Linked DNA regions of Homo sapiens: region 1 is linked to region 2. The links come from fine-mapping of genetic effects on gene expression. Tissue or cell type: lung. Region 2 holds a variant in brackets; the other region holds the start of a gene. All regions are shown on one strand. Distances are between the middles of the regions.

Evidence for each region. PIP is the estimated chance that this variant, and not a neighbour inherited with it, causes the effect.
Region 1: it holds the start of PITPNM3, and the variant in region 2 is fine-mapped to the expression of PITPNM3 in lung (TOPMed, PIP above 0.99).

Annotation. Positions count from the first base shown.
Region 1 is chr17:6,554,891-6,559,046 of GRCh38, forward strand. PITPNM3 (PITPNM family member 3) reads right to left here and starts at 1,665. Exons shown (of 20, transcript NM_031220.4): 1 at 1,495-1,665. The coding sequence starts at 1,516. RefSeq lists an enhancer at 1-576.
Region 2 is chr17:6,503,684-6,507,839 of GRCh38, forward strand. The region is part of intron 3 of PITPNM3 (PITPNM family member 3); the gene reads right to left. Among named protein-coding and RNA genes, the nearest start is that of PITPNM3, 51 kb to the right of the region's middle. The variant C/A (reference allele first, on the strand shown) is at 2,391.

The DNA of each region.
Region 1 (4,156 bases), 51 kb after region 2:
ATAGAACAAGCAGCAAATGTTCACTGCCGTTGCGATGACAGTGCCCTGGCAGGTGACCTGTGCTCAAGGCGTCCCAGTGCACACACACACTCACACACACACAGGGTAGGGCAGCAGATGGGACACACGCCCTGCCACAGGCCATTTTAAGGAGTCGGGGTGGGTGAGGACCCAGGCACGGTGGAGGAAAGAGGGAGGCAAGAAGCCTTTTTCAGCTTCCTTGGTGTCATCTCACAGTGCCTCCCTCAGGAGGGGAAAAGGGAGGGGAGTGAGAAGGCTGTTTAGCTGTGTTCCATACTGGCTGTGCCTCACACAACCGGCCCCACCCCGACAGGACTCCTTGGGGACAGAACGGGAGTGCATTCTCAGGCACCTAAATCTTACAGGCTCAGTGCCTGCACAGGGAGACGGGTCCGCAGCCCAGGGTCCCGGGCAGCTTTCGGGCTTGGGGGTGGATTGACACACAGCCCGATGGTATTCACACCCATTCCTTCACTGTCGCGCCCGGTCCTGGGGGACGGCATGGCACCAGCCAACGTCACGGGTTGGGTGTGAGTTCATGGTAGATTCTCACACGCCAGCCTCACAAGAGGCACTGCCGAGACCAGGCTTGCTGCCGCCTACTGTATGGCCGGCCCTGTGGGCACAGCTGTCCTCCACCCGCCTCCCAAGGCACCATCGGGCCCAGAATGTGCCCGATGAGTCACGGGCCTGGGTCTCCCCAGCATGGGCGCAGCAGGGGGGCTGAGTCCGCCTGAGCCCCGGTGCCCAGCTCAGGGTCTGGCACAGAGCAGATGCTAGTGAATGAACGTCGGGCTGGATGAATGAACGAATGACTAATGCCCGCTCCCTCAAACCACAGGCTACACCGTCTGAGCCTGGGGGAGGGCAGAGCCCACGGGACCCCAGAAGAGGCCTCCGCAGCTGAGGCTTTGCGTCCCAGGGTCGATGGGGGAGGGGGCGGGGCGGCCAGCAGCCGGCGCGGCACGGGGCTCCCCTCCTTCCCGAGAAGGAATCTGGGTCTCTGGACTGAGCTGGTGACGGGGGCTGGGGCGGGGGGTTGTGGCGTCCTGGATGGAGAGAGCTGCAGGAGCAGGGGGCGCGTCCCGGTTTGCGTTGGGGTGTGGGACGAAGCGGCGGCCGCGGGACATCCCCTTCGGTGGCGAAGCCCGGGTCTGCCCGGGGCCTCCGCGGGGTGCAGAGGGCTCCCAACGGCGGGACTGGCCCGGGGCGCCGCAGACCTGGCCCTTTCCGGCGGGGCCGTGGAGAAGGGGACGCGGTGTCCCCCGAGGTGACCGGGGGCGCAGGAAGGACGGGGGGCGCGCGGAGCCCCCTCTCCACGCGCGGGAGGTCCAGCCCCGCTACCGCCCCCTACGCCCTCCCGGGACCTCCGCCCACCTGCGCGAGGGGTTCACCTGGGCCGGCGGCCCCTCCTCTAGACGCGCGAGTCCCTCCCCCGGGCCCCGGCCCTGCCCTCCCCGCGCCCGCCCTCACCTGCACGGCCCGCCTTGGCCATGTCCCGGGCGGCGGGCTCCGGCGGCGCTACGCGCGCTCCTCGCGCTTCCCGGGCCCGGCCCCGACCGCCTCCGGCCCCGAACGGACTCCGAGCGCCGCGCCCGCGCCCCCGCCCCGCTCGCCTCGGCTGCCGCCACCGCAGCCGCCGCCGCCTCGCCGCTCCCTCCCGCTCCCTTAAAGGCGCCGAGCGGCGGCCGCGCCCCCCCCCCACCCCACCCCCCGCGCCGCCGGGGAGGGACTGACGAAGGAAGGCGCCCAACGCCGCCCCCGCGGGCCCGCACCCCCGCCCCGGGCCGTGGCCGCCGCGCTCCAGCCCGCTCCGCTCCGGCCCGCGCGGCCACCGCAGCGCGCGAGGGGCGGCAGCCCAGGGGCTCAGAGACGCGGAGACAGCCCGAGACACTGCGGGCCAGAGACGGGGCCCTGGACTGGGAGAGGGGCGCACAGACTATTAGACAGCGCTGGAGAGAGACGCTCCTAGGGCCAGAACGCCGAGGTGGAGGGAGAGAGAGAGAAATTCAGAGGAGACCAGAGACCCAGAGCCCGGCTCCGGCTCCGGGAGAGACGGACAGAGGGAGCGGAGAGAGGAAGGAGGACAGGGATCCAAGGGAGGCCCCCACGAAGTCAAGAGGAAAGTCGCTCTGGGATCAGAGACAAGAGAGGGACCCCCTCCATCAGCCCCCGCTCCAGGGGTTCTGGATCATTTATGGCGTCTGACCTAACCTCAAAAGAGAAAGGATTCCCGTGATTTTAACCCTCAAGGGATAAGTAAAACACTTGCACATCCACCTGGGGTTCTAGGCTGGAGCAGGCTTTGTGGACCCCAGCGGCCTGGTGGTGAGCAGTACCCGCCTTCCACTTCCTAAATCGGGATGCAGAGATTCTAGTGGACAGGCCTTGTGGTCCGGGGAGATATGGGTTATGACTTCTGTTTAGGGGCAGCAGGGATCCACAGTCCAGCCCCAAAAGAGAGCAGGAGATGGCCAATTGTATTTGGCGGTGCCTGAGAGGTAACAACCCTCCACTGAGAGGGTGCCCTGCCTCCCCCAGGAATTGGTAAGGCTGAAGCCCAGTTACCATCTGTAGAGCCAGGCACCCAACCCACCCTGTCCCACTCCACTTAACAGGGAAAAGGTCAACTGGAGAATTCCATCCATGGTCCAGGCTCCAGGGTCCTGCAAGCTCCTCTATGGAAACAGGGCACACATGGGGTTAGATGGGGGCTCTCAGTCCAGTGCCTTCTCTGGGGCTTTGACTCCATTCACAAGATTCCTGCTAAGCAGTCCTCCAGCTCCTGGTTGGTTACCTCCAAGGACAGGAAGCTCAGTATCTTAAGTGAGAGTTCTTCCTTTTATTAATTTTTTTTTTTTTTTTTTGGCTAGTGCTGGCCTTAAGAATGTTCTTACTCGTTTGAGCTGAAATCTACAACCCGCATGTCCCATCCATGAGTTCTGCTCTGCCTTCCGACACCTCACCCAACAAAACCAGGGCTTCCCAAGGCCTTCTACCCAAACTCCCTAGTATGGATTCACCCAGGGAGAACAACCATCCACGTTTGCCAGAGCTCACCTCCCAGGAAACCCATGAGTCCCAAGAGCTCTGGATCCCAGAGCCAGATGACAGCACCAACTCCAACAGATGTAGAATTTCAGAAGCTCTGGGCTCCTGAATCCAACGCTGTTCACCAGCACCTGCCATTGGTCACCAGCTGGGAGAGCAGGAATGGACCCTGCAGCCTTTCCCCACTATGAGAATGGGACTGGGGATGAGAATAACAAGGACTATTGATTGAACAGGCGGTATTTACCCTCATGTACTCTCTCAGCTACATTGCGTTATCCTCAGCATACACATAACGAAGTGGGGGCTAAGAAAGTTCGGTGCTTGTGGTCATGGAGGATCAATTTCAGGCCCCTGTGCTTTGTCTACTGGGCCTCACTGGCCTCACCCTTCCCTGAGGTGTTTCAGAGGCCTGATAGCCTGGACAATGTCCAGGCTTGGCCACCTGGTCTGTAGGTGTGAGTGGTCACGCAGGAGACAGAACGCTGGCTGCAGAAGAAGCAATGCGCCTGCCACAGAGGGGACACGCCTGGGCCTGAGCTCCTCCCCAGCCCTGGCTCACAGTAGCAGCAGTGACCAGAGGGCATCAAGGGCCCTCCTGCTTCTGGGCACAGCTTCACGTTGTGTTTGTGTGTGTGCCTGGGTATGTGTGCATGGGGTGTATGTGTGTGTGCTTGTGTGTGCTTAGGGATGCATGCATGGGTGTGTGTAGGCACACTCGTACACACAAACACAGGCAAACACCTGCTGACAGATGCTCCCTGGGTGGGCACCCAGACCCCTTCCCCTCCCACCACTTAGTCCTCACAAACCCTAAACTAGTCACCCAGAAGGGCCTGGGTGGAGCGGTTAAGGGGAGGTGCCAAGTTGATGGGAGTTTCAGAACTCATCTCTCCAGACCACTCCACACCCCATTTCTCAGATGGGAAGACAGTAAGCCAGATCTGTCCCCTGAAAACCACGACTCAGAGGCCCAGATCCATGGTTCCCCTCTTTAAACCTTCACCCCAGCCTCTGTCCGCCCCTAAGGCAGCCCCTGAAGGCACTGACTGTTACCAGCTGCCAAGGAAGTTCCAGCCCAGCC
Region 2 (4,156 bases):
GATGGGCAGAAGTATCTCCTACCACTTCATGCCCTGCTCTGCCCTGACCTGACCTAGCCCTTGGCCCTTCATGCCACACCTGATGCCATTTCTGGGGAGAGTACGGCCTGGCTCCTCTGCCTCCTCAGGCGTTTTCACCTCTGTCTTGTCCTCCAGCTCCTCCTCTCCTCCCTCCTCTATAAAGCAGCGGCTTCCCAGGAGCTGCCTGCCTCTCTATACTCACTCTCTCCTCTGAGGGTCCACACTGAACTCCAAGCCCACAAACCACTGCCAGGGCTCTGCCTCTGGCCCAGGCCTCTCCCCTTAGCTCTGGATCTGCATATCCCACTGCCCCCCAGACGTCTTCTGTGGCCACTCCCAAACACTGCACACTCCCCATGACCAAAGCTTCCCTAGAAGTCTGCGGCCCCTCCCAAAATGTGTCTGTGGCTTCCTCTAGGGCCCCAGGTCTCTGAGGAAGGTTTCCAAGGCAGAAAGCGAAGTCACCTCCTGGTCTCCCCAAGGGACTCGAGAATCCTTCCCCATGCAAAGCTACCTCATTTCTTCCCCTACAGAACTGAAGGGCAACTCCAGTCTAAGAACCTCCTCCATCTCCACAGCCCACACTCCAGGGCCTGGTAGATGACTCCTCTCCTGACCCCATGCCTGCCTCTCACAACCCCGTGCCTGCCTCTCACATGAAACTTCTCCAGGTGTTCATCAGAATGAACTTCTCCAGGTGTTCTCCAGATGGATTCATTAGAATCCATCACCCTGTTTCTGTAGCCCTCTGCCTGCCAGGGCCATCTTCATGGCCCACGTCCCCTGAATCCTGGGGTCATGGCCCCCGGGCTCTCTCAAAAGCAGGCAGGGGTAAACAATGGGAAGAGTGTCCAGCTGGAATCTGGAGGCTGACTCCATTTTAGGCTCCCTCTGGCCTGCTGTGTGATGTAAGGCACAGCACTCTCCCTCTCTGGGTTCATTCCTACAAGATAGCACGGATCCAGTGCTCGCTAAGAACCTCCAGGTCCTGAAAGCCCTTGAGTGACACTGCATTATAATTGGATACCTGGATTCAAATGCCAGCTTCTTCACTTACGAACCATGCACCCTTGGGCAAGTTACACAACCTGTATATGCCTCAATCTTCCAATCTATAAAATGGGGATAGTACTGGTACTTGCCTCGGAGGGTTACTGTGGATATTAAATGATTAATATATGTAAAGCCGGCTAGGCACGGTGGCTCATGCCTGTAATCCCAGCACTTTGGGAGACAGAGGTGGGCGGATCACCTGAGGTCAGGGGTTTGAGACCAGCCTGGCCAACATGGTGGAACCCTGTCTCTACTAAAATACAAAAACTAGCCAGGCGTGGTGGCGCATATCTATAATCCCGAAGCTACTCGGGAGGCTGAGGCAGGAGAATTGCTTGAACCCAGGAGGTGGAGGTTGCAGTGAGCCGAGATCACGCCACTGCACTCCAGCCTGGGTGACAGAATGAGACTCCGTCTCCAAAAAAGAAGACAAATAAAATATATATATATATATATATGTAAAGCCTTCAGAACACAGTCAGGCACAAAACAGGTGTTCAATAAGTGAGGATGGCTCTGATTCTTGTTTTATTTACTTGTTTACTTCTAACCATTGATTCAAGACCTTGTCCCTTTTGTCTTCATCATGATCCCAGGTGCAGCCAGATAGAGACAATCAATGGTTAATGCTAGATGCCAGCTCACAGCACTCCCTAGACCTAGGGGCCGTGACAAAGCCTAGGCCCAAGAGGGGCCCAGATAGAGAACAGAGACCTGGACACCGTCATAGAGCAGTCCCCACACAGCACAATAGGATGGACGCAGACTGTTTCCCAGGTGCAACAGCAGCACAGATGTGGACAGAAACAAGGAATGACCCAGTATCCAATACACAGGTCAGGGAGCGAAGACCAGCACCATGTCTGAGCACCAGCTAAGGCCCATGAAACTCTGGCGTCCCTAAGAAGTCAACTTTGACCACCCAGCAGAGCTGGGGCCTAGCAGAGAAATTAAGACATAAGACATGCATTCAAAAAACGCCTTCTATGGGCCAAGCCCCATGCTAGGGGCCATGGAGGATACAGAGATGAGGAAGTCAGAGTGAGTGAGGAGCAAGAACACCTCTGTGCAGAGAAGCACACGGCTAACTGCAATGAGAGGCGAGACCGGCGGGGAGAGACGGGGAGGGAAAGATTCATTCTGACTGAGGACTCCAAGGAAGCTTGTGCCAGAGCAGAGATTTCAGTTTTGACAGTAGAGGAAAGGGCATGGCATTCCAAGCAGCCAGCAAGATCATGTTTATGGAATGCCAAGTTCAAGGCAAAGCGGGGGTGTGAGAGAGCATGGTCCCATTTACAGATAAGAAGGAAGGAAGG[C/A]AGGAAGCCCATTTACAGATAAGAAAACCAAGGCCTGAAGAGGTGAAGGAGCTTGCAGACTCTTCCAAATCCAAACCTCCTGCTTTTTCTATCATACTCCACCAAAACCAGCTGCATAATGAGGAAGGCCTCATGCAAAAAGGAAATGCCGGGTCCCTTGTTCAAACAGAAAAAAAAAATGTTGCTAAAGGTACTAAAATATAACATTTTTCCTTTTCCCTGAGGATGCTCTAAAACCTGTTATGGTGTTTTCTTTCTTTCTCTCCTTCCTTCCTTCCTTTCTATTCTTTTCTTTTCCTTTCTCTCTTTTTTTTTTTTTGACAGAGTCTCATTCTGTCACCAGGCTGGAGTGCAATGGTGCGATTTCGGCTCACTGTAACCTCCGCCTCCCAGGTTCAAGCGATTCTCCTGCCTCAGCCTCCCAAGTAGCTGGGACTACAGGCACCCGCCACCACACCCGGCTAATTTTTGTATTTTTAGTAAAGATGGGGTTTTACCATGTTGGCCAAGATGGTCTCAGTCTCTTGACCTGGTGATCTGCCCACCTCGGCCTCCCAAAGGGCTGGGATTACAGGCGTGAGCCACCGCGCCCGGCCAGTGTTTTCTATTTGCTACTGTATTTCCTCATGCCCAGGGAGACTTGAGGGATGAGTGCAGGCCCTCCCAGGCCCCAGGGTCCCTGCTCCTTAGCTTGGCACGTACACACAGGCTCCACCAGCACCCAGGATCCCCCTCCTGCCAGCCACTGGGCCAAACAAACCATGCTGTGAGTGACAGTTGGAAAGTTGAGCCAAGCATGCACCCCTCCCACAGGCCTGCTGGCCCCATCCAGGGTAGACAAGAGTATTGCAACCTCCATGCTGAAACGCACTAGTTGAGTGAGAGGTTTTTTCCCTCTGAATCACCCTTGGAATGCTCTATGGCACTGCCAGCCCAGGGTGGGGACAGCTGCCTCGCCCCAAGACATGGTGGAGTATAAGCACCTAACCTCAGCCCTGCCTGCTCCCAGGCTCTGGCTTGGAGGGAGGCCAGCGGCTGTCCATGGGCAGGGGAAGGAGAAGAAAGCTGGGTGGGGGTGGGGCTGAGAAGCCAGAGGGCAGGAGAGCAGCAGGCCAAGATCCCAGGAGGCTTCAAGGCGGCAGGAGGCAGGACCATGTGAGAGCCGCCCACCAAGTACCCCCACACATATGCACTGTCCCGTCAGACTTCACTCACAAAACACAAACTTGGCCGGGCATGGTGGCTCACGCCTGTAAACTTAGCACTTTGGGAGGCCAAGGTGGGTGGACCACCTGAGGTCAGGAGTTTGAGACCAGCCTGGCCAACATGGTGAAACCCCGTCTCTACTAAAAATACAAAAATTAGCTGGGCGTGGTGGCGCATGCCTGTAATCCCAGCTACTAGGGAGGCTGAGGCAGGAGAATCACTTGAACCCAGGAGGCAGGGGTAGCAGTGAGCCGAGATAGTGCCACTGCACTCCAGCCTGGGCAACGGAGTGAGACTCCATTTAAAAAAAAAAACAAAACACAAAAACACAGACTTGAAGATAACACCATTCGGACTTCAGAACAGCAAACCCAATACCTGCAGCCCTCTGGAGCACTGGCCCTGAGCCCTGACTATAACACAGACACTTCTGGCATTTCTCGGGCATCTACTATGTGTCAGGCCCTGGAGGAGGGGAGGACTCCAGCGCAGGGAGGAGCCGGGTCTGAGTCATTACCTCCACATTCTCATGCCAAGTCCATAGTCGGTACTCACGGAGA